Linked DNA regions of Homo sapiens: all the other regions are linked to region 4. The links come from fine-mapping of genetic effects on gene expression. A gene starts in region 4. Each other region holds a variant in brackets. All regions are shown on one strand. Distances are between the middles of the regions.

Region 1 (8,107 bases), 41 kb after region 4:
CATGGGGATGAGGCCCGCCCACTGAGCAGCCCCAAGAAGTGGAGCTGGGGTTTGAGAAATAGGGCATTTCAGCTTCCCCAACCTCCCAAGTTTTAATGAAATCCCAAGAGCAGTTTTTAGGACTCCAAAGTCTTGCCCACACACACTGCATCTGCACCGTGAAACTCTCACTGGACCTCCAGAAGCTGGCACAACTATTCCTCTGCCTCCCATACCACTTGGCAGCTCTTCCTACCCACCGGGCAGTCTGAAATCCTCTGTCCAAAAAGCATGCCAATCTCATTTCCATCTCCAAGTCTCACAAATTGTCCCACTTGCTTTCCCATCCCTCTCATATGCTCAGCTCATCCCTCACTTCCTACAGGAAGCTCTGCAGGACTGTTCCTCTGAGCTTCCTGTTCACAGCCCTCAGCACTCGGTACTGTTCACTAAAGTTAGTCTCATTTCCACAGCCCCAAATTGTAAGTTTGTCTGAGGGCAGGGGTTTGAAAACTAGCCAATGTGTGTGAACAGCTTTACAAGCTTGATTTCATTTAAATCTTTACAACCCTTGTGAGGTAGGCAACTTGCATTATCCCCATTTTACAAACGAGGAAACGAGAAGGCTCAGGAAACATAAATAACATGCCCAAGATCACAGAGTTAGTTAGTGGCAGAATCGAGAAATGATGCCGTTCTGATTCTCGCATCTAGTCTTGTGAACACTACGAGATGTTGCTTCTTAGAGCAATGTTTGTTAACTGATCGATTGACTAAACCAGAGGTTCTCAAAATGTGGCTCCCAACCAGCAGCATCCACAGCATCTAGAAACTTGCTAGAAATGGACATTCCTGGGTCCCACCCCAGACTTACTGAATCAGAAACCCCAGGGCTGGGGCCCAGCAATCTGTGTTTCTAAGAGCCTTTCAGCGTTCTCTGGTGTGTGTTGTTGGTGTTTGAGGCTACCTGACTAGACCAGGGATTAAATTGTAGACTTGCAAGCCAAGAAGTAAAATTGAAGCTATAATTTAGGTACTTACCTGACAAGATAGAAAACCAATTCTCACAAAATTTTATTGATGAAATTCAAAATATGATAATAATCATTGAGTATGATTTTTTTATAATACAGGTCTAATAATGAGAAACATGAAATTCATTTGTGGGGATAACATTTTGCTTATTTGGGGTTCAAAGTTAGTGTTCCCTATGACCAAATAATTGCAAATGTTCATGTGTAAAAAAATCTTTCTTAGCTCCCTGTACAAAGCAGGCAGCAGACCAGATTTGGGCTGCAGGCTGTTGTAAGTGACCCCTGCACTAAACCATCCCAGCTGAATCAGTAACATTTGGTACACTTGGGTCAATTCTTGTCTAAAGAAGGCAGTCACTATAAACAACCAGTTTGGTGATTCTACACCTCCAATCCCACTCTCCCCAGCCCTGAGAACAGTTGCTGAAGTGAATTGACAGGTTTGACCAGGCATTTTGGCATCCTAAGCAAGGCTGTGATAAGTCAAGCAGTCCTTGCCTTACATAGCTCCCCGATAGGGAGAACAACTGTCTAGCCAGGTGGCTGAGCAGCTGCAGGAAGCCCTCAGCCCTGCTCCCGCCACCACCTGTGGCTTTCATCCCTTCCTTATCTGTCCCCTCCTGCACTTCCCTAGGGCCACCCCCACAGAGCTTGCCTCTCCCTGCTTGCCCAAGGAAGGTGGGTGTCTGGAGAGGACAGAAATTGACCTCCCCTCCATTTTTGTCCTTGGCCTGGCTTTTTCAGCACCTGTCTGAACTCGCAGCTGGATGGGAGATTATAGAGAGCTGACACATAGAAATAACAAGAAGCTTTAAAACTTTTCTGGTTCCTTAAAAAGATGGGTGGACATAATAGTTGGCTGATGCCCTTGGATTAAATTATGTCCCCTGAAACAATATGTTCAAGTCCTAACCCCTAGAACCTGTGAATGTGGCCTTCTTTAGAAACAGTCTTTACAGATGTCATCAAGTTAAGATGAGGTCATACTATATTAAAGTGAATCCTAATCCAGTGACTGGTGTCCTTATAAGAAGAAGGAAATTTGGACATAGAAACACAGCAGGAAACAGAGAGAACACCATAGGAAGACAGAAACAGATATTACAGTGATGTTTCTACAAGTCAAGGAACCAAAGATTGTCAGGCACTGTCAGAAGCTAAGAGAGCAGCATGGAACAGATTCTCCCTCAGAGCTTCTGGAAGGAACCAAGCCTGCCTACACCTTGATTTTGGACTTCCAGCCTCCAGGACAGTGGGAATAAATTTCTGTGGCTTTAAGCTACCCAGTCTGTGGTGCTTTGTTACAGCAGCCCTAGGGAGCTAATACAACTGATAATAAAGAAATGGTAAAATACAATGAGAGACGTCAGAATCATGAACAAGAAAAAATCATTATGCTTTCAAAAATCCTTAGCATATGAGACTTTGCTTCTGATAAAAAGTTAAGCAAAAAAAGCAGATTTCAAAATCAATTCTGCAATTTTAAAACTTGCATTTTTACAACATTGGTGCAAACCAAAGATTAGATGAAAATGTAACATACTCGTTGCAGTATTTATCTCTGGGTAGGGAACCAAAGTTAACATGGATTCTTATAATTAGAAAAAAATGATAATTAAAAAAACAATTAAATAAAAGTAATAATCCATGTTTACCTTGGACAAGAAAAACAAAAACTGTGAAAGCAAAAGGCAGTTGTCTAGAATCTGAGCAGTTGTGAAGTGGGTCTCAGATAAGCCTGAAGACTAGATTGCTGAAGGGGCAGCTGGAAGCTATTAGGAGAGCAGCTAAAATAAAATCAGATGCCAAGACTGCTTCTCAGCCTGCGCTGCACTTCAGAATCATCTGGAGAGTTTTGTTTTTAGTTTTTTTGTTTTTTAACAAACCAATGTCCAGGTTTCACCCCAGGCCACCTGAATAAACCAGGGGAGTCCAGTTAGGATTGTATGAAATTTAAATAACATTTTAATTACTCTTTGCTTTGAGAAAATCCTGTATGAGAAAACCTGAGTTTAGCCAGATCAGTGAGGGAAGATGACAGTATTCATAATAGGTAGCATTTCTGGACATTTTCTACATGCTGAGATTATTCCATATTATTTACATGGTTTATCTCCCTTAAACATCAAAATAATGTTATTATCATAGTTACCATGATTATATCCACTTTAGAAATTAAATAACTGAGACTCAGAAATGTTAACTATCATGGCCAGGATCACATAATAGGTAAGTGGTACACAGGAAGTCAAATTCCTCACTAACACACTATATTCCATCTTTAAATCTTGGAACATGATTATCCCAAGCTGCAAGTTTGGTAAAGAAGGTTGTTAGCTGCTCAAATCCGGGTCAGTATCTAAAGCCCTACTTTCCCCTGAGATTTTCACAGCATGGCCAGCATATGTCAAAGCACCTTCTTTTGTGTACCCAATTGATTTAAAAACTCAAAGTCCATTATGCACCTGGGAGAGCTTCATGCTGTCAGAACTGAAGGTGGTAGACTTCTATCCTTAAAGATCTTTGCTAAACTGTACACAATTCACTTTTTATGGTGAATAACCAGATAACTTTCTCTATGGTCTCAGGACCAGAGACTGTGAGACTTCTCCTGAGAACCTTCTTCTCATTCATCATATGGACCTAAAACTCGATATTATCACCTCACCGCTGGCTTCCACTTCTCTTTTCTACCTGCATTTCTCCACTGTCTTAATTTCTTCATCCATTTATTACTGATTCTATTTTGCCTTTTTTGCATTGTATCTGGTTTTATATGTCACTTAAATCAGTGACCTTGAAATTGCCTGCACTTCAAAATCATCTGAGGAGCTTTTAAAAATCCTGATGTCCAAATGACACCACAGACCAAGGGCATCAGGACCTTGGAGTTAGACCACACATCGATTCTTTAAAGTTCCTCAGCAGGTGATGAGCAGCTAAATATTTCAAAATTCTTCCTGGAAAAATATGGAGAAATAAATAAATAACAATATAGCCCTAAACCATCTCAAGTTTCAAACAGCTAACTTACAGTCATTATACTCACAGATCATATTTTTAAAAATGCTTTCTCTGCCTCTTGACCCTGAAGCTTTTGTGTTGCCATGAAGGGCCACAGAATTTTGCTGCTTCTGTTGATTCCCTTTAGGTCTCCTCCTCTGCTGTCCTTCAAGCCAAGCAGCCTGCTTCCTGCC[A/G]TTCAGAAACCTCCTACCACTCCCCCCATATTTAGGGACCCCCCTCCCCACCATTTTCCAACATCTGTGCCTCAATCAGGAACTTAAAGAGAAACCCAAAACCACAGCAAACCATCCTTCTGTAATTTGCTGAGCTGCCAGCCTAAAAAAGAGACTAAATATTCCCTTTTTGCTTAAATGGGAGCAACAAATGCTGTTGTTTAAATGAACTGTGAAACAAACCAAAGTTGTGGTTTTGTTTTCCAGAAACAGTTTAGTAAACTAGTTTAATGCAGAAGTAAAGACAATATACTTATAAAACTACATAATTCCAAAAGAAAAAAAAATCCTCAAAGGGAAACTTACGCTCCATTCACTTAGAATCAGATACACACATACATGAATAAAATGGGGAGAGGGAGGGGGCAGAGCTAGCCCAAGTATAAGAATGGCTAATCATTGAAAAGCATAACAGACGAGTCCTGAAAACAGAAGCATAAATGTTATCTGCATAGTTGGGGTGACAGCTCAGTGCATAACTTTTCATAAATATGAAGCTGCCATCTACCTTCATGGGAAACCTTGCCATCCTTCATGCCCTTGGCCTTCTCTCCTGTTCCGTTCTGTCACATTCTCCTCCAGAAGTAAAGCTTAAGCCCAACTCACTGTGGACCATTCATCATATAGAAAGTACTTGTTGGTCATCAACTCTGCCCAGCTCTGCTCTGGAAGCCATGAAGGAGCCAAATAAAGTAAAATTTACTCATGCGAACAGCAGGTGTTAATGAGTATCTACTATGTCGCGGCTCAGGCTGGGAGCCAGAGATGCAGAGATGAAGAGGCGTGTAGACAGAGTCTCCATCCTCCAGGGCTCAGTTTCCTTGGGGAGCACACCTGGCATAGCTAAAAGTCAAAGACTGTGTTAAGTCCTTTAGCAAAATTGACTGAGTGTCTTCTAGTTGCCAAGCCTGCTCTCAGTTCTGAGACAGACAGTCTGTGCCCTCAGGGAGTCTCCAGGCCAGTGCAAAGCCAGGCTGACAGCCCCTGTGAAGTCAGTGGTAAAGGCACACCTGGGAAGTTAGAGAAGGCAGACCCAGCTTTCTCCAACCTTGTCCTTGTCCTTTCACCCGCATGTTCTGTTCTGGTTCCTTATGCCTTTCATCAGTTCTTCAAACACCCAGGCTACACTCAGGGCCTCTGCCCTGCCATTTCTCTCTCTAGATAACTGTCCCCCGATCCTTATGGGTGTGACTTTTTCCTTCTCATCTGTCATGTCTTGGCCCAAATGTGTTAATCAGATCATCCTCAACGACCTATCAAAGGAGAGCCACTTTCATTATTTTCTGTATATATTGCTTGTTGGTTTCTTTCTTCATATTGCCACAGTTTTAATGTATTTTATGTATTTGTCTCTTTACTTGGATTTTTGTCTGTCTCCTCTCTTGAAATACATGCTCCATAGAACCATGTACACCTTGACTCCTGTATCTCAGCACCTAGTATAGCACCTGACACATATTTGTTAACTGAATGAATGAATAAGGTGATATAAATCTGAATACCAATACTCATAGTTTCAAACATTTAAACAGTGCCTGTGCCAGGTTCTGGATGCATTATAATTATTAACTCATTTAATAATACTTAAGCTAAATCTTGAAAGACAAATACAGGTTGCCAGGTGGAGAAGGTAGGTAAGGGTGTTCCAGGCAGAGAGAACAGCACATTCAAAGGCCTGGAGGTGTGAATACACCCAGCACAGTCAGGAGCTGAGAGTAGGTGGGTATAGAAGGATGGTGGAGCAGGGCAGTAAAAGTGGTCAGAGACAAGCTGAACACAGAAGAGGCAATGAGACGTTTTGGGAGGCAAAGACGTGATTTTGTGCTGAAGGCAAAATAGAATCACTGGGGGAAAGATTTGGAGAGTCCCTTGTAATTTTACAGCAACCAGTGCTGATGGTTCACCTGCCAGCCCAGGGGCCTTGGTTTTCTCCTTGTGCTTTATAGGAACATTTCTCCACCCCAGGCTCCACTTCCAGCAAAGATGCACATGGTGACTATTGTGATACTGAACTTTATGTGTCAACTTGACTGGGCCACAGTGTGTCCAGACATTTGGCCAAGCACAGTTCTAGGTGTGTCTATGAGGGTGCTTCTGCATAAGACTAACATTTGAATCTGCAGACTGAGTAAAGCAGAGTGTCCTCCCCAACGTGGGGAATTGGGGGGCACTCCACCAATCAGTTGAGTGCCTGAATAGAACAAAAAGGCTGACTCTCCTCTGAGTAAGGGAGAATTGTTCCTGCCTTCAGACTGAAATGGAAACATTGGCTCTCCTGGTTTTCAGGGCCTCCAACTTGGTTTGGAACTACACCATCAGCTCTCCCAGGTCTCTAGCCTGCTAACTTACCCTACAGATATTGGGGCTTGCCATTAATAATCATTTGAGCCAATTCCTTAGAATAAATCTTTTTCTGTGTGTACATCCTGTTGGTTGTTTCTCTGGAGAACACTGACTCATTCAGCCATTCCTCAAATCTTAACTTTAGAGTGATGGGACAAAGCGGGAGGGAGACCACTCAAGGGGCTCAGAGGAAGAAGAAAGGAGCAACATGGGAGTGATGAGACAACAGTGGAGAAGGCAGAACCAAGCAGCCAGAGGCCACCTCTGCCTCACCCCTGGGCCACTCATGGGCCCCAAAGCCTGCACTCAGTGGATGAATGCAATCCTAAAGGCATCAGGGGAAGGCTCAGCCAAGCATTGCCCAAGAGATTCAAGATGGCAGCCCCTGTCCTGTATCATCAATGAGTTGGCATCTGGCCATTGATAAGAGGGGACTTCTGGCCATTGACCACGGCACCAACATGAAGTGCCCCCTGACAGTTTTTCAGCAACACCCTGTAGATGCCCATCCTCTACACCCCAACCCCTTCCAAGGACAAGGTTCCCAGCAAGAAGGAGTTTCCCAGCATCCTTCACCATTTTCTTCTGTTCTGTCCCTCACTCTACTGTCTCAAGCATGTGGGACTGTGGCTGGCAATGGAGTATCCCAGAAGGCATGGAGATAGAACGGGTGCTACTTAAAGGGGCAATTGGGGTCAAAGCCTCTCAGGGTCTGAGGAGGGGCTGCCCCTCTTTTTTCATTTGAGACCTAGAATGGCAGACCTTCTGGTATGGATTAAGTATGCTGTTTGTCTTGAGTAGGGCCATGGGAGATAATTACAGCCAAACAAGATAGCCAGGAGAGGGACCTGGCTAAGATAAGAGGGACCTGGTATAAGAATACTGTGTTTTGAGTCAGCAAACCTATGTTCCAATTCAATTCAGTTCTGGCACTTGCTCACTAGATTGCTTCAAGCAAGTTAATTTGGTATAAAATATGTCAAATAGGGCTCATAATACCTACTGTGTTAAAGATGGCCCCCAATTCACTACTCTTCTTGCAGTTTATTTCTTCCACTAAAATCTCAGCCAGGCTTTGTGACTTGCTTGACTGACAGAATGCCAAGGAGATGACACTCACTATCAGCCATGGATAGATCATACGTCATCTCAAACTTCCACCCCTGTCTCTTGAAACTCACTCTCTCATGCCCCCTCTCAGGACCCAGTTGCCATGTGCTGAGAAGCCCAAGCCACATGGGGAGGCCACCTGCAGACATTCTGGGCCATCAGCCCCGTTGAACTTCCAGCCAACGGTCAGCTACCAGCCCTGCTGAGCAGCCCCACAGCACATGCCAGGCATGCGCATGTGCATTAAATTGGGGGAAGTTTGCAATAAAATCACTGGAACACCTCACCTGTAAATCAAGTGACTCCCATGTGAAATTCATCATTAAGATTATAGAAAAGCACCTTGTAAACCATAAAGTGCTCCACAAATGTGAAGGGTCATCATTAATATCACGAGTTCCTGCA
Region 2 (8,107 bases), 150 kb before region 4:
CAAACATTTTTTTCTTTTAATTTTTTGTTAGTCCCAGGCTTATTTCTCTCTTTTTATTTTTCCAGGACTCTGTGCATCAATTTAATGTTACAAAGTCGCTTTCTTTCTCTGTAGATGCCACTTCAGAGACAGATTCTCTGGGGTGTTTTTTGGTAAATCATCTCGTTACATTATGGTTCCAATACACGTGTTCACACAGAAGTGCCTTCAGTCTGAGAATGTTAAGTGCTCAGGGTGTGATAGCAGTTGAAGGGACCTCAGTGAGACAGGGCTCTTTCTTGTGAGAGGAGGACTCAGGTCTCTGTCCTACTGACTCAGCCTCTCAGATACAGGGTTTGCTCTGAGATTTCCTGCTCAGCTACCATTAGTTATTTGGTATGCTTAGTGCTCTACACACAATATTTTTCTTTTCTTTCTAATTTTTTTATTTCAACAGGCTTTTGGGGAACAGGTGGTGTTTGATTACATGAATAAGTTCTTTAGAGGTGATTTCTGAGATTTTGGTGCACCCATCGCTTGAGCAACGTACATTGTACCCAATGTGTAGTCTTTTATCCCTCACTCCGTCCCACCATTTCCCCAAGTCCTCCAAAGTCCATCGTATCATTCTTATACCTTTGCATCCTCAAAGTGTAGCTCCCACTTATAAGTGAGAACACATGATGTTTGGTTTTCCATTTCTGAGTTACTTCATTTAGAATAATAGTCTCCAATTCCATCAAGGTTGCTGCAAATGCCATTATTTCATTCCGTTTCATGACTGAGTAGTATTCCATGGTATATACATTTATATACCACATTTTCTTTATCCACTCTTTGATTGATGGGCATTTGGGCTGGTTCCGTATTTTTGCAATTGCGAATTGTGCTGCTATAAACATGCATCTCTACACCTTATGATTACGATAGTGATTATTCCCAGTTTACAGATTAGAAAACTGAGGTTCAAAGAGTTTAAACTATTGTCTATAAAGAGCTGCAATTTATTTTGACTCCAAAGTTCACATTCTTTTCTTTATACTTTTTCTTCCTTTGTGTTTTATTTGTCTGATATTAAGAGAGCAAAAAGATTCTAGATATCTCAATGACTAAAAATATTGGAGACACCAGAATCAGCATCTACAGGGTTGCCATTAAAGTCACAGGATGGGGGAGGGATGAAGATGGCTGACTAGACACAGGTATTATGTGCTCAGCATCACTAATTATCAGAGAAATGCAAATCAAAACCACAATAAGATACCATCTCACACCAGTCAGAATGGCTATTATTAAAACGTCTAAAAACAACAGATGTTGGCAAGGATACGGAGAAAGGGGAACGCTTATATACTGTTAGTGGGAAAGTAAATTAGTACAACTTTTATGAAAAACAGTATGGATAGTCCTCAAAGAACTAAAAATAGTACTAACTGCCCTTCAATTCAGCAACTTCACTACTGGCTATCTACCCAAAGGAAAAGAAATCATTATATCAAAAAGATACCTGCACTCGCATATTTATTGCAGTTCTATTTACAATAGCAAAGGTATGGAATCAACCTAAATGTCCATCAATAGAAGACTGGATAAAGAACGTGTGGTATGTATACATCATGGAATACTACTCAGCCATTAAAAACAAAGAATGAAATTATGTCTTTCGCAGCAACATGGATGGAACTGAAGCCATTATCTTCAAGGAAATAACACAGAAACAGAAAGCCAAATACTGCATGTTCTCACTTATAAGCGGGAGCTAAACAATAAGTATACATGGATATGCAGAGTGGAATAATAGACGTTCGAGACTCCAAGAGGTGGGGCGGTAGGAGGAGGGTGAGGGTTGAAAAATGACCTATTGGATACAATCTTCACTATTCAGGGGATGAACACACTAAAAGGCCAGGCTTCATGACACAATATATGCATCAAAGAAACCTGCACTTGTACCCCTAAAATATATTTAAAAAATAAAAAAAAGCCACAGTATGGAGCCTGGAGCCTGAAGCTTGAAAGTGGTGAGTCAGCCTAAAGAGTGTGAGAATCGGGAGTTCCAGATCCTAATTCCATCACTCCCGCTAAGCTCGACATTGTTATTTCGACCGCTGGGCAAGCTCCCTGAGCCTCCATTTTTGCCTCCCTGGACCTCCATTTCCTCACCTTTATAATTGAGAGTTTAGAGGAGGTCCTCTATGAAGTTCTATCCTGTGCTAAGATTCCCATGGCACACCTATTGGGACACGTTCTTTCTCAGAACATTTCTGCCACCCGGAATCTCATGAAGCAATGAGACTCAATTCCCCATAACGACAACAATCAGCATTCCCACTTCTCCAAAGCATATGGTACTATGGATGCCTGCCAGGGAGTTCTGTGAACGGAAGTGAGGCATGAATGAACATCACCAGCCAACATGTTAGGTTTGTCCTTCTTGCTGTTCTTATTACTGAGTATCTACACTGGGTTTGGGAGACGGTCCCTTTTACTGATTATTTCAAGAACATGGTCTCTGTCTTCGTGGAGTTAATTACTTCAGTTCCTCCCTTTACTTCATGACCCATCAGTTGCTCGGCCTGCTTTTTGGCATTTTCTATATCTCAGGACCTCTCTGTATTTAGTATACTAATGAAAAAAATTAAGGCTTCAAATAGAGAAAAAAATAAGTTCTGGTGTCTCATGATGCCCTTGTTAGTTAGAGAAGGGTCAAGTGAAGACCTATTTCATATGTGCAAGATAATTGTCAAGTGAAGTGAGGAGGAAAGGATAAGAAGACATTTTTATTTTGATTTTAATTGGCTTCTCTGTTCTTTCTCAGTTCCCTCCAACCCCGACCCAATTTCACCTTTCATCATAAAGCTCAAGGCCTTGTTGGAATGGGGGAGGGGAAGCGGTGGGTAAGGGGAAAGAAGAATATGGCATATTAAATCTATTCCATGAACTATGTCATTTCATACATAATTCATCAGAATCCTAATATTCAAGACTGAAGCCAGACTTCCATTTTTAAAAACCCAGAGTTTTGTTTGTTTGTTTATTTCTGTCAGTTTTTCTTTTTTGCCATTTGTAAGGTTGTGATTAATTTTATTTTTGTCTCTTGGTCACAAAACCCTGTGCCCCTCAAAAATTGCTCTATTGCCAGGCAGTGAGTACCCTAGGCTGGAGGGAAGCCAAGCACCGCTACCACCAGCCAGGCTGGCAGGAGTGCAGGAATGTGGCTTGGGGAGTCCACCTCCTGCTTTCTCTGTCCTTTCTGCCCCAGGAGGGAAAGGGCTGAGGAGAGGAAAGGTGGGGGCCCATTGCAGAGTTTGCCAAAGCTTCACAAGGACTTAGAGTACAAGTGTGTCCAGAAGAAATTTCTTTCCGAGGGGAGAAGAGTAAAGTAGGTGGGAAAATGTTGATCTGTGATGACAACCTGTAGAGGTGTGAAGAAGTTTTTATTAATGATGCAAGTTGCAGACAGTCCTGCCAGCTACAAACAAGGTTCAGCAAGGGCTGTTGTCATAATAGCCACTGTAGGGGGCTGACAGTTCAGGAAAGGAGCATACACCGGCTCAGGGGCTTATGCTCAGTCACATGAGACTACAGCACTTGCAGTAGTTACGTTGGGAGTGGGTGGTGATTTGATCCACATCAAGTAATCAGGCTCTTGTATAATGGTGGGGGAGGAGCACAGGTAGCATATTTCCATTTCTATAGTA[A/G]TGAATGACTGTGAAATATGCACCAGCTTATAGACCGATAAAACAAACTGTGTGAGGTCTATGTGGTGACCCTCAGAGAACTGTGGCTGCATGTCCATGATCTCCAAATACGCTGAACTGAAAAAAAGAAAAATCAAAGAAACTGGTCACTTTGCCCCAGTGGGTTAAAAATTGGTCTGGTTTCTTTTTAGTTACTTAACTGATGTTGGATCACTGAATTAATGAATCTGGTCTCTGTTCTCTTTTGGTCTGACTTGGATGTAAATGTTTGGATGAGAATTCTGGGATGTATCAATTCTAGACAGTTGTTTGTATTGGGGAAGCTGAGAAATATAAAGACAGAAAAATGAAAAAGAAATAGAGATGACCAGAAGTGGGCCAAGGTAAGAATCAATGAAGGACAGTAGCAGGAAGTACCAGGACAAAATCAAAATTGTATCAAAGAGAATTTTGAAGATTCATTACTTCTAAAAAGCAACTTACACCACAGTCGCAGGTGTCTTATAAAAATATTTTGAATTTCTTATGACTTACACAGAATATTTAATAAATGCACACTTTAATATTACCATGCACCATTTTAATTTGAAACAGGTTTGTGGAGGTTTAATAGGATATTCACTTTGAGTGGGTGGGGTGGACAAATGTGATAAAAAGAACGATTTACCTGAGATCTGAGAAAGACCCGTGGGAAAGGTACTTTACTGGGTAGGATTAATCATCCTCTAAAATTTCAAGTTCATTTACATATATTTCTGAGAGACACTGAGCCACATTCTTTCCTCAGAAGCACCATTTGTTCAGTTTGCTGACACCAGATGCTATAAGGCTATTGTTGTGACGGTTCTTAAACCCATTCTGTTTGGGTAGAACATCCTTTGAAAGTTTCTTATACCTGCTTTTCTCGTGTACAATGAGGAAAATTCATTTCCTTCCTGTTGAGCAAAGTTAACGATTATGTTCCATTATATTAAAATATTATCCATTGTTATGACTTCAGTTTATTGTTCCTGCTGAAATCGCCATGTGTTGCAGAGTCAGCAATGCCAAGACCCAGGCACTCGTGTGTCAGTTCAGAGTTTCTCTTTAAAAATAGTTTTTTTCAGATGAGTTATGACAAAAAAATGGCAAATCACAATTTCAGGGGAATTAATAGGTAATTACATACTTAAAAATCATTTTTAGCTTGAAAATCCAAATTTTTAACAATGTTGTATCCAGAACATAATTATAACTGCCACATTGAATCTCTGAACCAGAAATAAGAGCCTTCCTTTAAGATATAATAAATACTTTAAGTATTAGGACAATGTTTCTCTTTCAAGAGGGATGAAAAGTAGAATTATAGGCTACCACTATATTCTAATTCCATGAATGGTTCACTTTTTAAAACTTTTTTTTATCCTTTTCAAGGGTTCATTATTTGTGTCCAAAGAAGACAAGGAAAGATCAGGACGTGGACTGAAAAACCAGAGTAGGCTCAGAAGATTCAAAAGCTCGAATCAGGAGGTGGTGTTTTTCCTGGTATTTTGGCAGATGTAACAGCACCAGAACCAGAATGCGGGCAATGTGAAGGAGATTGTAGCAGGAGCAAAGAAAGGAAGGGAGAAAAGAAGATGGAATCCTCTTCTTTTTGTGAGTTTCTTTTTGGGAGAAGAGAGAATAGCCTGGAATTCATTCAGGCAGCTCCACTGAGGCAAATCCATTATCAGTTCAATTCCCTTCAGAACTAGTTCACAAGGGCTGCCATAAAAAAAATACCATAGACCGGTGGCTTAATCAACAGGAATGCATTTTTTTCACAGTTCTGGAGGCTGGGAGTCCAAGACCAAGGCGCCGGCAGGGTTGGTTTTGTTTCCTCTGCTGAGGCCTCTTTCTTTGGCTGGCAGACGGCCATCCTCTTGCTCCCTCTTCATACAGTCATCCCTCTGTGTACACGTGCCCTGGCATCTCTCCTCCTTAAAAGGACACCAGTCGTATTGGATTAGGGTCCATCTTAATAGCCTCGGTTTAACTTAATCACCTTTCTGAAGACCCTGTACTCAAATACAGTCACATGAATTAGCCCCCAGCCATGTGACCTCATTTTATCTTAATTACCTCTTTAAAGACAGTATCTCCAAATATAGTCACATTCTGAGGTGTTAGGGGTTGAGACTGCAACATACGGATTTTGGAGGGACAAGTTCATCCCACAACACCTTCCAAATTTTTTTTTAACTTGAAAACAGGTGATGTATCTGTGGTAGACAGATGATGACCGTCTCCTAAGCCTTAGATATAAGGAAGAGTAAAAGGAGGTGAAAGTTAGCTCCCTTGGGATATTCAAGGCACTGAAAACTGTGAGGGCCCAATTTTATTTTGTTTGAACTGTTTTTTAAATTTGTTAGTGAAAATTCCAGATATGCACAAAGTAGACAGAATAGTACAGTAAGCCCCCTTATGTTCATCCACCAGATTCAACAATTGTTGTGGCTTTGATCCTCTTGCTGAATCCATTTTCTCTCTCTTTTTTTTCTCTCTCTCTCTTGCCGAAGTGTTTTAAAGCTAATCTTGGGTATTGTGTCATCTTACCCTGCATCTCTTAAATAAAGGTATTTAAGTATGCATCTTTTAAAATATAAACACTCTCTTACATAACCATGATGCCATCATCATGCCTATCAAAGTTGACAATAATTTCTTGCTTGTTTTATTCCCAATTCAAATTTCCCTCCTCTCAAAAAAAAATATATATGTATATATACGTATATAGTTGATAATGTGAAACAAGATCCAAACAAGATTATTATTACATTTAGTTGTTAGTAGACTATTTATTTTGGGGAAAAAACATTGTTTCATTGCAGAGAGTGCATCATTTAGAACATCCTATAGGGTTATTTACTTTTACTTGGAAATTGCCCTAAATACCAGAAACAAACTCTCTATCCGATGGAGTGGGCCTGGATGGAATTGCTTCTCCCATAATGCCTTGGATGCTGTCTGTTTACCTGGATAGTGGTCAGCCTAACTAAACAGGAAATTATACTTGCTTTCTGTTTAAATAATATCTTGGTTTCTATAAGTAGTCATTATATTTGATTCTATAAGATTTCATTATACTTTAGATAACATTTCTCATGGAAAACACAGAAGCAGCAGACATCTTTAGATATTCTGGTTGCTTCAAGGTTATCCACATATTACCTGGAATTCAGCTGCCTCCCACCCCGACCTTTGGGATAACAAGATAAACTTGATTCACAGCCAGTTCCATCACCCGTTAATGTCCAAAGTTCTTGCTGTGGTTTCTGCAACTGTCCAGGGCCAATATCCCTATGGGGTCCTCCTCTCTGATGCTTGCAATCATGTATGCTACCTCTATTTCATCTACAGCAGCCAGACACTAACCTTAGCTCCTTCAGGGGGTTCCACAAACCTCCATTCACACCCAGCATTTTGTGAGCTTTGTCACTTTATTTAAGAATGGGAGGGCAGGACCATGTAGAGTGGCTCACCTCACACAGAGTACACGATTTTACCACTTGCTGGTCTCTCTCTTGCCGCCTCCCACCGCCATTTCCCCTCACTCTCTTTCTTTCCTCTCCCTTTTAAGAGTGTGACAAATTCCTCTCCTTACCTCATGCAGAGCAGTTTAATAATAACTTTTTAAACTTGAATATACTCTTGGGTTTCACCCTCCACCCCAAATGACTTGCTGAAGTATTTCTTTATCCAGATATATTCAGGGCTCTCTTTCAGAGGAATTCTGGTTAATGCAATTTTCTCTACCTCATTTTAAGTATGTAACAGTCAGCCCCTATTTCTGCTCCAGCCCCCAGATTCATCCTACACATACAGAAGAGTGTGCTGGGGGCATCTCCCCGAATTCCTTCATGTAACAGAGCAGGGACCAGGAATGCTACTTATCTGGTGCAGCCACAGCTGCCCAGAAAACAGCAACAGGGTTGTGCAAAGTGATGCCACCCACACTAGAAGACTCTTAAATTTTGTTGAAATACAACACTACCTGGGTGCAAAAGCTTAGCAATTTTCCCATATGCAACTCTTATCGCCCACAGGGCAAACCTATGGCTAAAGTCAGACTATTTAAACCTGCCTCTTCCTGACACCCAAATTTCCTCAACTTGCAGACAGTATTCCTGCAGCCAAGGAATTCTCCCTTGCCACAGAGAAAAAAAAAATCCCTGAATATTTTCATTTCATCCAATTCAGCAGATCACAAAGGATAAATAGGCACACTCTCTTTGAACTTGGCTTCAGGAGTGTGTCCATCAATCCAAGCAATCCAGGCTGCCAGAGACTGCAGAATCCATCAACCTAGGACCCAATTCCAGCCTGGTATCTTGAATCTGCTTACAATTCTTTTTTTCCCCACTTGAGAAGAGGTGATCAGTGTTTTCTGTTGTTGTTGTTTTAGTTTT
Region 3 (8,107 bases), 39 kb before region 4:
TGTGCATTAAATAATCTATACAACAAGCAGGACTTTAAATCCAATCCTTTTCTTCCTAATAGGATGGGATTTTGTGCACATGTATATACTAATAGCTAAAAAATCAAACAGTTGTCACTGATCAAAACAACAATAATTTGTCCTGTGGGGAAAAAAAGAGTGTGAGAGAGAGAAAGAATAGAAAAGAAAGAAAGAAAAAGGAACTGTCCAGCCCTGGAGACTAGAGCTATTTTGATCGCACAAGAACATAATCAGAGTCAGGAACACAGTGGAGGAAATATTCCCAAAGGAAATCAAGATTAAGATGCACACTTCGGCCTCTTCCTACAAGCACCAACCTCCCAAGCCCACAGGTCATTTTGTTTGACAATGTCACATCGATTTACATTTCACAATGCACTTTTAACTTTAGAATGTTAATGTGCTGGCTGGAATTAGCTGTATCTTTAGAGAAGAGTCTGATCTTGACCATGTTCTCCTTTAGAGAGACTTCCTAGTTGGTTTGTTATTTTGGTAAATGAGAACCCAGGAAGAAATTAAATCAATTTTATAGATACGTGTGTGTGTGTGTGTGTGTGTGTGTGATGAAAGTGTCCCTGCAGGACAGACACTGGGAAACTGTGCTTTGAAGAGAACAAAGCCTTTCGGGAAAAGGGTTCCATGTTCAAAAGAAAATGAGGAAATATGACTTCTAGCCCAGATATTGCCAGGCCCACTTCCATCCTTGGTTTTGCTCCATGTTGGAGCTCAGGATTCTGGATGTATTTCCTCTGAGTGCCCTGTTGGTGGCGGAGGGCAGGGTGGGGTAGAGCAAGGCATAGCCTTCCATGCGGGGAATCTGTGCTGTCTCAGGGCTTTCCTCCAGAGGCAGTCCAGAGAGAGATATGCCAGCGTCATAAACCCTGCTTCCTCCTTCCTTCTGTGCCACCCATTTTCCTAGTCCCACTACTTCACAAGTAAATAACCATCTTCATTGGAAGTAACCTTCTTCCCTAGAGAGGTGAAGTGACTGGTCTATGGTCACACAGCTATTAAGAGCCTCTGACAGAAAGAAATCCAGCCTCTTCAGTTTCAGGTCATTGCATGTTCTTTCCTCCTACCTTGTAAGCAGCTTCAGTCTTTGATGTGGGCCCTGTGTCCTGGGCCACAGGACAGACTTAGGGCTCAAACCTCCCTGGGCCTCACCTGGCACTTCCCTGCCAAGGTTGCATCCTGCCTCTCTCTGAAGAGTCACCCTCTAGCCTAGTCATTGTGGAACCTACTCCTCAGTCCCAACATCACCACAAACACCCACTGTCCCTACAAGGGACAGGAGGGCTGAGATTTAGGGACCCAAGTTTAGATGCAAATTAGAATCTTTTTAATGTTATGAGAATGATGGTGAAAAATCCTGAGGACAAGAGTTATATTTAGTCTGCAAATATGTATTGAGAAGAATCCCCCAAAAAGTTACTATTAAAGAATAATGATAAAGATTCATGCACTTTAGTTGGGGGCAGAGTTTAGGGGTGGCATTATGAAAAGCTGTGGGAGTTTTGAAGCAGCCTTTACTCAAGAGATGGTTGTGTGCTGAGGGAGAGAAGATTTGGAGCTATTACTCACAATGCACCAGCAGAAGATTCCAAGTTGGAGAGCCTAGGCAGAGAAGTTCCATGGGGTGTGGGAAGGTGGGGGTATGGTAAGAGGCAGCATAAGAATGGCTGAGCTGAGGCTGGGCATGGTGGCTCATGCTTGTTATGCCCAGCACTTTAGGAGACCAAGGCAGGTAGATTGCTTGAGCTCAGAAGTTTGAGAACAGCCTAGGCAATATGATGAAACACCGTCTCTACAAAAAATACAAAAAAAAATAGCCAGATGTGGTGGTATGCACCTGTGGTGCCAGCTACTTGGGAGGCTGAGGTGGGAGGATCGCTTGAGCCTGGGAGGTCAAGGCTGCAGTGAGCTGAGATTGCACCACTGCACTCCAGCCTGGGCAACAGAGTGAGACCCTGTCAAAAAAAAGAAAAGAAAAGAAAAGAAAAGAATAGCTGGGCTGGACACACTTCACTACAGAGACAGTCATTCTCTCCAGAAGCCAGCATGAGGCAGAACCTGGCTGCCAGACAGGGGAGGTTCTTCCCCATCTAGAGACCAAAAGGTCAAGTGTAGAAACTCGGTTGGGTAGATGTGAAGGATGCTGTAGGCCAGCTGGCTCAGCCTCCATTCCTAACTTCCTCAGGGAACCAGTCTATACTGTAGACACCAGAAAATGAAAAACTAATTTTCTCTTCCTCCTTTGCAGGTAGGGTTCCTGATGGGATTGGGTTCCACCAATCAGAGCCACTTGCATGAGACCTCAACTGAGAGCCAGGTCAGTGGGATGGGAGGCACAGCACGAGGCCTTTACTTTGCTAGCTCAGATCATGGCAGAATGGTGGGCTCTGCCACGGACAGTGGGGGATGCAGTTTCCCTCAATCATATCAGAGCATCATCTGGGGAACTGGAATTGTTTCTGAAAGCTCAAACCAGAATCTGCTTGTTCAGCACTTCCAAAATGTTCATAGGCCAATTAATACCTGATTATTAATGCTCTCCTGTTTCAATAAACTGGAACAATTTCTGTCATCTGCATCACCATGGACAGTGGCCAAGATAACATATCTGACTCCCCAAACTGATCATTTTTTAGTACCCTCCTCTATGGGACAAAATTATTTTCAGTGAGAATCATGTAATAATCATTAATTATTATTACTCTCATGATTCATTCATTAGCTTTAAAACAATAATTTAAACAGAATAAATTTTAATTTTCAAGATATTATTCAAATCCAGTCAAATATCTCGTGTATGAACTAAAATTTGCATTTCCTAAACTTTAAACACAAATTAAAATTCCAAGTGGTTGTGCAGAATGACAGAATTAAATTAACTCAGGTTTTGTGTCTTGGCTTTGCAATTACTGTGCTATCATCCTTTATCGATTATTTAAATGCAGGCATACTTAGTACAACAGGGGCTGGAGACACAAACTGTGCCTGAAGCCAGTTCGAACCATCTTGAACTGTTCTTTCTTACTGGAAGTTCTCCTAAGTAACTTTCACATAGACTATAATATTAGTAAAAGGATAAGTAATTAACTATGCTAATTTGAAGCATATATATGTATGTGTGTATATATATGGGTATATATGTATACACACACACATACACACAGATGTATATGAGTGTATAGAATTAAAATTCAATAGTCACCACAGCAATTGTTTAGAAAATGGACAAACAAAAGATTTGTGGGAGGATTATTTTATCACTGACATTGTTTAGAATTACTGGCCTAGGGATAAGAAAAAGCAAACTGACTCACAGTCGATTTTATTATTGGTTTTAAATTATCTGCAGACAATGCAGCTGTGTGCATCTTGAGGGTGGGTGCACCCGCCCCTGGTTGGCAGGTGGGGCTGAGCCTGAAAAAGCCTGATCCCAAGCCTGAGGGCTCCAGAGGGTTGGGGACTTGAGGGGAAGTGGCATGGCGAGGGGGGATTCCCAGACCCCAGCACCCTCCCCACCAGATACCTCCTGCATACCAGGAGACCCAGCCTGAGCCGCTCATGACTCCCCAGATTCTCAAATACTGCTGAAACATAAAGATCCCCCACAAACTGCCTTTGGTGGTGAGGAACCAAGAGCCCAAAACTGCTGAAACCCTGGTACCCAGTTCTCAGTAGTGAAGAGACCCACCCACCCCATGTGATGGAAATGTGTGCCTCAGCACAATTAAACCTCGTCTCCTGCCACGGGCCCTTGAGGGCACACACAAGTTGTTGAATTTATGAATGTTAACTCTGCCAATGCCGAAATTCCACTTTAACCTATACCTGGAATGCCTTCGTTCGCTGGCAGGTGAGCTGCACCTCAGGTGTCTGCAGGGGACAGGGTGAGTGAAAGCCCCACAGAGCTCTCAGCCTGAGAAGGCCCTGAGCCAGGGCACTGCCTTTAATGAGAGAAGTTTCTCTTTTCCCCTCCAAGTGGTGGCCGCAC[C/T]GAGAGACATCTAAAGTTCTCTGAGAGCAGAGACGGAGTTTATTTCCGGTGTCCTTCGCGGTCCCCAGCAGTACAACTCTCATAAAAGGTTAACTTCCTAGTTCTGGGGAGAGTAAAGCTTGTCTTTTCTCCACTAGTTGAGGGACCTTTAGCATAAAGGTCCAGCCTCACAGAAGATGACTAAACACACAAGCCAATTTTAATGCTGTGTCCTGAGACCCCAAGGGAGTCCAGGGGAGACCATCTCCCTAGACAAAGGAAAGAGGCACCTCCCCACCCCAGGGGGGACACTGTGGACAAGATGCAGGTGCACAGTGCCAGATATCCAAGGACCCTTGGAAGGCTGTGACCTTTCTCCTCTGAGCAGTAGTAGTAAGCCAGATGTCCACTAGCAGGTCCCAGAGATGCGGCCACAGCAGTAAAGCTGCATGACAGTCTACTTGCCTGGCACTGCCCAGGAGAGTGCCACTAGCCCCCATCCTGTAGGACCAGTGGGTGCTGTCCTCCTCTACGCAGAGTGGCCAGGGAGGAGGGGCAGGGCCATCTAGCCATGTGGTTCATGCCTAGGTGTCTGGGAGCAGGAAGACATGCATTTCCAATCTAGCATTGGCACCCAAACTCACATTGCTGTATTCCTGTCAAGCAGTGTTAGCCAGCCTCATATCTAAGGACTACAGGCTTTAATTACTCCAGGGAACAGCCTGGTGGCCAGACAAAGAAAGGCTTGTTACAAAGGCCCCTTTGTTGAAAGGGCTTTTGTCCCAGCAAGAGGATTGCTCCAGGCACCCCTTATAGGCCACCAGCCCAGAGCAGGGAAGTAATACTTGTCCAACTAACCCTCGGGTGTTTCAGAAGACCTGGACTCAAGTCCCCGCAGCCCAGGTTTGCTGGCAACATAGTCCGCTGTAAGTCACACATCCTTTTTAAGCCCCAGTTTTCTTACCTATCAAAAAGCAATCATCAATGTGAATTTCACCCTCTTTTCTCCAGTCCTGGAGGCTGAGTCCCCCAGGCTGCTGGAGGTGCTGAGAATACCTGGACCCTACTAGCAATGCAGAGAAGTGTTTACACCCCTCTCTGGCAGGTGATGTTCGATGTGTCTTTAACCGTGTCCCTACCCTCTGTCATCCCACACACAACAAACACATATATAAGAAGAAAAGGAACGTGTTTGTAGTGGATATTTCTCCTCTTTCCTACTGAGGGTCCAAGCAGCCTCCCTAAGTTGAGGTGAGGGGCAGCAGCCACTTCCTCTCTGGAGAGCCAGGAAGGACACCTCCTCTCACTCCCTGGAAACAGAACAGCAGGCTGCTGACCTTCACCCGGCCACCAGTGCTCCACCCTGAACTCAAGATTCCAGGATGCAAGACGGAGGCTTCAGGAGGAGAGAGATTTCTCCTTGGAAAGCTGGAAGAGCTGAAAGGAGAGTAGGAGGTAGTGAGGAGGGGCCTGCAGCAGGTCTCAGGGACTCTACAGGGCGTGGACCTGTGCTGTACTTTTGCCCCCTGACCCTCGTTCCTGATGCTTTTCTGAGCTTGGTTCTCCAGCCTTCTGATAATTCCATAGGCTGCTGGATAGATAGCCTTCCAACAAATTCCCTTTCTGCCTAAGTTAACCAGATTTGGGGTCTGTTGTTTGTAACCAAGAGTCCTACCTGATACTGTGTAAGATATAGCCAGAGAGGAAATTACCCCAAAAATCTATTTTTTAAAATCTGCCTGCACAAATATACTAACCACAGCATTATTTAAAACTGTGCAGATGGAAACCACTGGACAGTAGTGACATGGTTAAGTGGAGTCTGAGCCATTCACTCGGAAAAACAAGCAATCATCAGAATAATGGGTATGAAGACAATGCAATGACAAGGGAAGTGCTGCTGAGATTGACTGACAAATGACAACAGGAAAAGAAACTGAATGCAAGATGTGCCCCTCTTCCCCTACCAAGAATAGAAGCTCCTAGGAGCTAGACTTTTGATCTATTTTGTTCAGGGTCCTATCTCCAGCAAGTGGCAATGGTAGGCACTCAACTGACACTTAGAGAATGAATGAATGAATGAACTATTTGCACAGGGGAGGGGTGGGTAAAAACACCTTCAAATGCTATTAGTGATTATTACAGGTTACTCAGATTTTTTAAAGCTGTTGTTCCCTTTCCTCTATTTCTAGCATTTTCCATCATGTGGTTTTATTCATTTTCCTGAGAAGAAAAAAATGTTTTCTTAGCCCAAACCACTGGTAGGTGACCCAACTTCCCTAATATTTATGTTCCCTCTTGAGAGGCCTAAGCTGCAACTAAGCAGGGTGGCAAGGGCAAAGGAACATTTGCTCTCCTTTCCAAGTAGAAATGCTCAGCTGAAGCAGTCATTAAGGAGCCTGGCTCTGCTGCCCAAGGAAACACTTCCTTCCCATGGGCGGCGAGCGCCGAGTGACCTTCACAGCCCCTGGGCTGGATCTTGGAGCAGGAGAGTCTGTCTGGGGCAATAAAGCATCGCCAGGTGTCCAGGCCAAGTCAAAGGCCTTCCTGCCCTCCCCTGTTCCCCTCCGGTTGTCATCTCTTGCTTCCTCACCCGGGCTTTGTCACCAGTCCATGCACACTGCAGGGTCTGAACAATGGCAGACTCAATAGCCAGAGGGAGTTCAAAGGGGTTGATCGCCCCTTCAGATTGGCATTCAGCAGAAGCAGCCACTAGCTTAGCAAGTGGGATCCTGTTCCACCTCAGAGTGACTAAGCAGGGAAGTGGAGGAGTCAGCACTCCACAGAAGCCAGGAGGTTGGCTTCAGGCTGGCCATGAATTCTCACAGCAGGAAAGGGCAAAAGGAGATCAACCAGCCAGATGAGCTATGAGGAAATGAAATCTGCTGCAGATCGCTGGGCAGGGCCAGCTGTACACACCTGCTAAGATTACCATTTTATGACCACCACTGGCTTGCACTCACTATGATATTCTCTCTCTCTCTCTCTCTCTCTCTCACACACACACACACACACACACACGCAAGCATTTTCAGCATGAAAGAATGAGAATAAAATCATGCAAAGGAAAATGCCGAACACAGAGAAAAGACACACGTAAATGTACACACTTGCAAAGGCTCTGATTCACTAACTTCATGCCCCTTTTTTACCTGCCCATATCAAAACATGCTTCATCCTGGTTGGATCCAACAAAAGACCACAAGCCCCAGGTTCCAAGGCACATCCTGCAGGCATTTTTTTCCATTTTATCCATAGTGCTGCAGTGTTTAGTGGGTTGCTTACAGTTCAGGACCACCTGGGAGGAAGCCCCACTCTACATTCTGGGTCCCAGCTCTGCCAAGTCTCTTCTCCAAATTCCAAGGGTACAAAACCAGTTGGGCAGTGTCCCCTCTTAAGAGCTCTGAGTCCCAGCTCTATGTGATCCCTCCTCAAGCTGCTGAGAGTCCGCATCAGCCTGGGAACACCCTCCACCAGAGACCTGTGTTCCAGCTTTGCTGGGCCCTTCCCCTAAGCATCTAGGTTCTATTAACCCCAGTCTCTTGCTTTGTTTCCTCAGCCCTTGGGGTGGTAGCTGCTCCCTGCAGTTACCGTCACTGAGATGCCTCAAGGTTCCTTTTTTGCCTTTTCAGTCCTAATACTAGCCTAATAATCCCCTTTATTAAATTATCTCTGTTAAAATAACTATGGTGATCAACTCCTTACTTAAATAATGTTTACATGATCAAAAGACTTTCTGTAGTAGTATTAACAGTTTTGGTTTCCTTGGTTATTTTAACTTTATTCAATTTAAATTCATTGAATTTTTTCCAATTATGCTTTCATTTTACAGTCATTAAAAAACAAAAAAAAAAAAAACTGGCCAGGCATGGTGGCTAACACCTGTAATCCTAGCACTTTGGGAGGCCAAGGCGGGTGGATCACTTGAGGTCAGGAGTTTGAAACCAGCCTGGCCAACATGGTGAAACCCTTTCTCTACTAAAAATCCAAAAATTTAGCTGGGCGTGGTGGTGGCTGCCTGTAATCCCAGCTACTTGGGAGGCTGAGGCAGGAGAATTGCTTGAACTCAGAAGGCAGAGGTTGCAGTGAGCCAAGATTGTGCCACTG
Region 4 (8,107 bases):
AGTGACAACGCAGGCAGCAGGATAAGGTGAGGGCTGTATGGCTGGACAAACCCAGTGGCCCCTAAACCCTAGGATGCCTTAGAATCCTTGGGGTGTGGAGCCGTTAAAAATGCACAGTCCTTGGCTCTACCTAGGAGATCAGATTCACTAGGTCTCCAGTGAGTCCCAGAAATCTGCATTTTAAATAAGCTTTTAAACTATTCGAATACACGTGGTCCACAGACCACCTTTGATGAACACTAGTCCAGTCAGCAGTACTCTGTAGATGTCCAGAGGGAAAGGAAGCCCACTGGGCAGGCCCAGGAAGAGAGCTATTTTTGTGTTTAGACATGAAAAAGCTTACAAGGAATCCTTTTCTTTCCTCTGCTGCACAATTGAGTGTTTTGAAGGAGAGCCAATACCTTGCCATTATCTGGAGAATGTGCAATCGGCACAAGGAATAAAAAGGGACGCATACAGCTGAGTCTAGAGCTGATGAAACCAGTTTATCTGAATCTGATTCCAGGGCATTTTGATGCTGAAAGGTGGTGTTATGACTCACTGAAGCTTTCACATCTATTGTTTTTCTTTTCCTGGGTGGCTTTGCCAAAGACCTTATAGATATCATTATTTTCAGATTACTGTTATTACACACATTCTTCTTGAATAAAATGCTACCTTATTTTTATCTCCATAGAGCAAAATCAAGTTTCGGTTGTTTTCTTATCTTCATATGTAAAACAGTCCCAGCGGTTAAGTCTCAGATGGGAAGAAAAATTAACTAAAGCCTTGAGCAGAGATGTCCAGACTGAAGGCTGACTTAACGGTTTCCCCATGACCAAGTGGACAGGGTGGCACACCCAATTCCCTGGACACATGCCAGAAACTGGGCTTAACCTGCATCATGAGCAAATAAAGTTTCATTTAAAGAAAAGAGTTTCTGCAATTTAGCAAAAATGAGTGACTGACGAGTAACACTATCCAGAAACTGACAGATTGTCAAACCCGCCTGCTACCCCTGGGTCATTTCAGCCATGGAATTTCTGGCCCAGTGAGAGCAAAGTCATTGCTTTCTCCCTTGACAGATTTCTCTGTGGAGAGTTCAGAACAGAAGAGAGAAATATCTGCAAGCTTTCTGAAAGCCATGGGGAAGCTGTGGGATGTTGTGTCCGGTGCCTGCGTCGGGCTCCATCTCTCTCCACAGCAGCTCTCATATGTATTTATGAAACCGTATGAGGCTCCCTGGTGGGTGGCACTTTATGGGTGAATTACTAGCTAAAATTCAAAGGGGTTTTGATGGCAAATAGTATTTTATTCAATTCATAAGCTTCTTCTCCTAATTCAGCATCTAGCCTTAAAAATAGACCTTTAGCAGAGGTTGAGCAAACACCTGCCTGTTTTGCTTTGGCCCAGAACCTGGGCTTGTCTCAGACCAGCTGGTTCCATATGGGCCTCTGTAATACGGTGGCCTGCAAAATACAGGATTCCCAGTTAAACTTGAATTTCATTACAAAGAACAAATCATTTGCAATATAAGTATGTCCCTGCAGTGTTGGGGATAGACATGTACTAAAAAATTTACTCTTTGCTTTTTGGAAATTCAAATTTAACTGAGCATCTTGTGGTTTTATTTGCTAAATCAGGCAGGCCTACTCTGTCCCAGTGTATAAGCATCACACCGCCCTTGGTTCTTATCCAACATCCAGACCTATACTGGGGCTTCTCAGAATGGGATTCCCATGAATTTGGGATGCCCTGAGAGGTAGCGTTAGTAGTGAAAAAGGGGACCCTGCAAGGTGGAGGCCTCAAAGCCAGTTATTTCTGCTGCCGCCCTACCCAAGGAGAGTGTAGATGGAAGTAAATATCTAAATGCCCTCATTAGGGTGGGGCTGTTCCAACACAGGAATTACGACACACGGCCAGACTCAGAGGCTGCCCTCTGTTCTGTGGCAAAAGGGTCCCAAAGTACAGCCCACTGCTTAGCCTGACTGCCCTTCCTAAGTACTTCTTAAAGACTGCGTGTCCCAACCGGGCTCAAGCCTGTAATCCCAGCACTTTGGGAGGCCGAGGAGGGCTGATCTCGAGGTCAGGAGATCAAGACCATCCTGGCTAACATGGTGAAACCCTGTCTCTACTACAAATACAAAAAAATTAGCCGGGCATGGTGGCGGGCGCCTGTAGTCCCAGCTACTCGGGAGGCTGAGGCAGGAGAATAGCGTGAACCCGGGAGGCGGAGCTTGCAGTGAGCAGAGATCGCGCCACTGCACTCCAGGCTGGGCGACAGAGCGAGACTCCGTCTCAAAAAAAAAAAAAAAAAAAAAAAGACTGTGTGTCCCACTTTATCTGAGGGGCCAATCTGCTCAAGACATTTTTGAGCTGCCAGTCCCGAACTGCGTGCTTAAGCCCCAAGAGCTAGCAGGTATCCGCAGAGCCCCTGCACAGGGCTGCTGGGAGTTTCCATTGGCCACGCCTTCTGACCTCAGTTCTGCACTCCCATGCTCATTAGCTCCCTGCATTCTTGGATGCTCTTGAATATTCCCCTGCTCACCCTTCTTCTCTTGCCTGGTACAACCTTGGTAGCCTGACCCCAGAACTGGGCTGCTTGCCCTGGGCACCAGTTGGCTTTGTTCCCAGGCATTACTGCTGGGATTCGCTCTGGACTCTGAAATATGCCTCCTCAGCCAGCCCGACTGCCCAGATCCCACCAGCCTGCTCTGTCCAGAGAGATGAGACATTCGGACTATTCAGTGTCCGTTCATGCCATCTGCTGGGATCATGATTTCTATACTCTGGTCACACATTACATGAATAATACTTCCCCCATTTCCTCAAAAAGATCCTCAGACAAGCTCAACCCCCATGTGCTAGTAGTTCAGGATTCTATGACCATCCTAAGTTTACACAACCACTTGGCCTTGGCTGGCCAAGACATGATGGTGTGGGAGCCTAGGAAGACCCTTCAGAGACGGCAGCAACCAGACTCCTCTTCTCACAGTCCCCCTCCAGCTCTGGTCTGTCCTCCTCACACAACCTCCCCCTCACAGTTTTGGGGTCTCATCTTTGGACCCTCTCTTGCCCCATTTTCCAAACACATCATCCCTGGCTGTATTAGGGGTCTCTGGGGCAGCCGCACTATGCTTTGATAGAGGGATGAGGTAAAGTTATTTTCCACTTTATTAACCTGAAAAAGCATAAACCGACCAAGTTTAGGGGCCTGAAGCATATTCTAAACAGACAGTGTCTCCTCCCTGACCCAGTTCTCTTACGGAATCATGGGAACCCATCTCCTCGACTTAGCAGCGGCAGACAGGCTGGTGTTTCTTGGCATTGTTTTCTAGGGCTGAAGCTGCAGTTTTCCTGATTTGGCCCTTGCATATTATTTAATTGTTTATCTTGACATACAGGTTTATCCCAGAAGGGGATGTTTAAAAAGTGGCATGGAGACCCTGGCTATAGACAGAAATGCAGCTTAACTTACCTTGGCTTCCTTCCTGCCAGACTCCTCCCAATTATTCTGCAGGCTTCTTTGCCCTGAGGGCAGTTTGCAGCTCCAGGGACTGGAATTGGCTTAAAAAAAAAATTCCTTCCTCTCTGTGCCCCATGTGAGGGAGCATTGTGTTCTCTCTAAATAATCAGCCTGGCTTTGTGTGACCTAACTGGACAGGGCCCTTTGAGAGATTTTTCAGTTGCAGAAAGAGCAGTCAGTGGCATCCTACAAAATCAGAAAGTTTTCAGACCAAGGAGAGAAGTCAGTGACAGCAAGATATTTTTTTCTTTAAGTTGTATTGTGACTAATTCCTCTCTCCCACTGGTGTTTAGAGTAATTAGGTAAAAGTGCAACAGAAGAATCCAAATTTATATTTTAGATCTAATAAATAATAACATTTAATCAGATGATCCCCATCCATTAACACCAAAATAACAAACAATTCAATGAATTATTTTAGGGTACTTACTATGTGCAAGGCATTGTCAAGGTAATTATTTCTTGCATTTACTGATTTCCTCCTGGGGACGCAGCACTAGCAAGAAGCTAATGGATTAGAAAGAAGTAGAAGGCCTCCAGCTGACAACCCACTCAGAAGAGAACATGGATCAGAATTGCCTGCCTCCATGGCAGGCACAGAGCTGGGAATTCATAAGCAGAAATTACTTCATTCAATCATCTCAATAGCCCTGTGGGGAAGACAGTAGTTCTCCATTTTACAGATGTGGAAACTGAGATCCAAAGACTATGTATATAGCAGGCAGAATGATGCCTCCCCTCCTTCAAAAATTCTGAAGGCTGTGAATAGGTTACCTCAAATGGCAAAAGGGGCTTTGAAGAGGTGATGAAAGGTTTTGCAGTGGGGATGTTACTATCGACTTTCTGAGTGGGCCCAGTGTAATTGCCATGGTCTTTAATAAGGGGGTAGATAGGAAGATAAGAGTGAGAATGACAGGGATGTGACAATGGAAACAGAAATTGGAGTGATGTCGGGTCATGAGTCAAGGAATGCATGCACCCTCTAGAAGCTGGAAAAGGCAAGAAAACAGATTCCTCCCCCTCCACCCCAAGCCTCCTGAAGACGCCCTGCCCTGATAACCCACTGTGAACTTCTGGCCTCCAAAACTGTAAGATATCTTGGTCCATTTTCTGCTGCTGTAACAGAATACCACAGGCTAGGTAACTTATAAATAACAGAAGTTTATTTGTCTTATGGATCTGGAGGCTGGGAAGTGCAAGATCAAGGGGCTGCATCTGGTGAGGGCCTTCTTGCTGTGTCATAACATGCAGAAGGCATTACCTGACAAGAGAGCATGCGAGAGAGAGAGAGGAAGGGAACCAGAACTTCATTCTTCTATGTGGAGCCCACTCCTTTGATAACTAACACACTCCTGTGATTAACAGCCTTGATCCATTCATGAGGGCAGAGCCCTCATGACCTAATCACCTCCTGTAAGACCATGTTTCAACATTGTTACAATGGCAACTAAATTTCAACCTAAGTTTTGGAGGGGATATTAAACTATAGCAGTTATACATTTGTGTTATTTTAAGCCACTGAGTTTGTAGTCATTTGTTGGAACAGCAATAGAAACTAATACAGTATGCCCCATTTGCATTCCACAATGGATTTGAGGTGGTCATAGACAGTTGCTCCAGAGTGGTAGAACCAGTCAGGACTGCATGCTATCTAACTGGCCCCTGGAGTTCTGCAAGGCAGGGGCCCTAGAGCAGGATTCAAGTGAAGTCAATGTGCCCTTAAAGTCTATGTCGTTTCTTTTTTTCTGATCTGCTTCCTCAAGATAAAATTTAGGAGCAAAATGAGTGAAATACCAGAAGAGAAATATTCTGTAACATGACATGTTTAATGAATGAGTAAAGAGTTCAGGAAATGAGTGAGTTCTGAAAATGAGTTACTGGTGCATGCTAAAGTGATCCGGGAAGACTTGATAGAGGCAATATAGTATAACCTGGGCCCTGCAGCATGGACAGATTGGAAGTAGCATTAGAGGCAAACAGGAGGCCTTGCAGCTGAGGGAATGACCTGATAGAAGAAATGCCCCTGGGAACAGAAAGGATAAACCAACCTTCCTAACCTGTATCCCCACCTCCTACCCTCACCCTATTCTCTGCCTGTGGATTCCATTAAATCTTCCAACCAAAGCCTTGGCAAAGGCTTTGAATAACATCCTGTGGTCTTCCTTACTTTACAAATGCTAAGTCTTGACCCAAAGAGATATATTTCGTCTTTCTCGCCCACAGTTACCAAACAGATCAAGTCTCCCAGGTCACTGCTCCCTAGTCATTAGGAACAAAGCGTTTTTAGTTTTTCAAAGTCAACAAGCATACTCTTTGTCTCTGTAGTGGCCAGTTTGATTCAGCATGTCCAAATGAGGAAAATTTGGATTAGAATTCCAGACTTTAACCCTGGCCAGGAAATTTTGTCAAATACAAGGACAGTGACTTGAGAGATACACTCTTAAACCATCTTTAATTTATAATTAAGTAAATTGTAAGAGGGGCAGCATCTGACTAAAAATGGCTCTAAAGCAGAAGATTCAGCCTCTCTATTCCTGTGTTCTGCTGTCACCTGCAACATAACATTGAGCACACTCTGTTACATCTTCTGTGAAATGAGAAATTGGACTTAAAATTCTCTCCATCGCTTCAGATGCTTTGGGCCATGAGGCAACAGAAACCCTGATTCAAAGTGGTTTAAACATTTAAGGAAACGTCCTATCCTGTATAACAGAAAGTAGAGCAGCAGGGAAGCTTAGGGGTTGACTGATTGGGTGGCTCAACAACGTCATCAAGAACCTGGGTTCTTTCTATCTTTCTCTCTCTCTCGCCATACCTGGGTATCAGCTTCATCCTCGTGCTGGTAGTGAGACTGCTGTTGCATCTCCAGGCATCACATTCAGACACAAAGAATCCGGAAGAAAAGGAGGAAGACTCCCCAGAAGATGTCCCTTCACATAGTATTGGCCATTATTGAGTCACATGTGCCAATATCTGAATAAATCACCAGAAAGGAGACCCTCAAGAGGTGATGTTTCAGCCTCTCCTGGGAGTACAAAAGCGGAAGAAAACAGAACAAAATCACAATTCTGTGTGGAAGGAAAATTGGGAGAATTGCTGCTAGACAGAAAATGTATAGTGACCTCTATTCTCTCAAAGGTATTTCCAGCTCTAAAAATTTCATATATTGAAAAGCATTTGTTGCCTAACATGGTTTAAACCCAGACCACCAATTCACATGCCTACATATAACCAAGCACTGTGCTATTCACCCAAGAAACAGCAGTGAGCAAGAGGCATGGAGCTTCATGCAGCGACCAGTCTAAGGGATCCTGACCACATGAAAACCATAACCACCAGTTGCATTGTAACACCTGATTTCCAACAGTGGCCCCGGGTGAGGCCTCATGGTATTGGTGATATAGATAAATGAGAGAAAATAGTTGCTGTTAATTTAAACAAGTTACATTTAAAACATTGACCAATCAACATCCCTGTCTACCCTCGGACAACCTAAAGAACTCTAGTGGTGTTACACAGTAAAAAGCGGGGTAGTAGGTGGTGTGTTACATTTTCTTAAAAGAAAATTCAAATTGGCTACTAGAGTTTTTGACCTCACATTGACCATGGGCAGACTGTGTCTTTTTAAACTCATTTCCAGAGTGCTTGAATGAGGAATGACATTTTTCCTCCTAGTGTAGACCTGGTCCCGAGTTATTTCCTATGGCTACAATGACTATTCTAAGGAATGGAGAAAATAGAGATGGATGGATGTTTGATGGGAAATTTTACACTTCTCGTGAGTCTTTTTTTTTGTGGGGTTCTGTATGTTTGCTCAATTGCAATTACCTGTGTCTTTCTTCTGTGGCTGGATTAGTAACTATTCAATTCATCCAAAGAATAGAACAGTGCCACTAAAATGAGTGTTCTTCTCCCAACAGGATACTTAGGTTTTGACTGAGTAATCAAACTCTGCAAGAAATTTCACCAACATATTTATTATACCAAGTGACAGGAACAGGAGATATGTTTTGTTATATAATATATTATAACTAACTAGAAGAGTAGACCACAAAAACTTCCTTAAACATGAAAGTCACACCTGCCCATGTTCCTACGTACATGCAGTGATAAATTTCTGTCCCCATTTCACAACCAGGTTTACCAGATGACCATGCGAATAAGAAGCATATAAAGCAATAAGTATACTTGAGTGAAAGAATAAAGCATTTTTAAAGTTCCAATTTTTCCACTGAATCATTGCTGCCAATTGTTGAACTATGGGTAGGGAGAGTGGTCTGTTCTTGTTATAAGGCTGGGATTTGCCATATAAAAGTGGGCCTAGACAGCACAGTGAAGCGAATTCTATAATTTCTGCAATTACAATTAAAATCTCTGTTCCCCCTCATCAAGCTTCTAAGCAGACCTACTCACAGATGTTACCCTGCCTCATTTGAGGTCCATTTCTATTTCCCACCCTCGGTGGAGCTGCTAATAAACAGTGAAATGGCCAAACCAAAGAGAGAAAAGAGAGAAGAACCAAAGGCCAGAATCATCTATAAGTTGAATAACTTGTACTTGAAAAACAGTGGTTTAACAGTAACCAAATGAGAGTATGTGCCT

Direction of the effects. Alleles are on the strand shown, and positions count from the first base shown. SD is a standard deviation of normalised expression in the study named. Not every link is listed here.
In carriers of allele A in region 2, the expression in substantia nigra of the gene that starts at base 3,523 in region 4 tends to be lower than with G alone (small effect, 0.24 SD a copy in GTEx).

Evidence for each region.
Region 1: its variant is fine-mapped to the expression of LINC03122 in blood mononuclear cells (TOPMed, PIP above 0.99).
Region 2: its variant is fine-mapped to the expression of LINC03122 in substantia nigra (GTEx, PIP 0.97).
Region 3: its variant is fine-mapped to the expression of LINC03122 in hypothalamus (GTEx, PIP 0.94).

Annotation. Positions count from the first base shown.
Region 1 is chr5:61,591,792-61,599,898 of GRCh38, reverse strand. No RefSeq gene overlaps it. Among named protein-coding and RNA genes, the nearest start is that of LINC03122, 42 kb to the left of the region's middle. The variant A/G (reference allele first, on the strand shown) is at 4,211.
Region 2 is chr5:61,778,771-61,786,877 of GRCh38, reverse strand. LOC105378995 (a long non-coding RNA gene) reads left to right here and starts at 2,152. Exons shown (of 5, transcript XR_948369.1): 1 at 2,152-2,402; 2 at 5,094-5,315. The variant A/G (reference allele first, on the strand shown) is at 3,681.
Region 3 is chr5:61,671,866-61,679,972 of GRCh38, reverse strand. All of the region lies in intron 1 of LINC03122 (long intergenic non-protein coding RNA 3122), which reads right to left. LINC03152 (long intergenic non-protein coding RNA 3152) reads left to right here. Exons shown (of 8, transcript NR_109910.1): 6 at 2,282-2,350. Among named protein-coding and RNA genes, the nearest start is that of LINC03152, 23 kb to the left of the region's middle. RefSeq lists an enhancer at 6,512-7,012. The variant C/T (reference allele first, on the strand shown) is at 4,022.
Region 4 is chr5:61,633,197-61,641,303 of GRCh38, reverse strand. It overlaps LINC03122 (long intergenic non-protein coding RNA 3122), which reads right to left and starts at 3,523. Exons shown (of 2, transcript NR_126525.1): 1 at 3,458-3,523.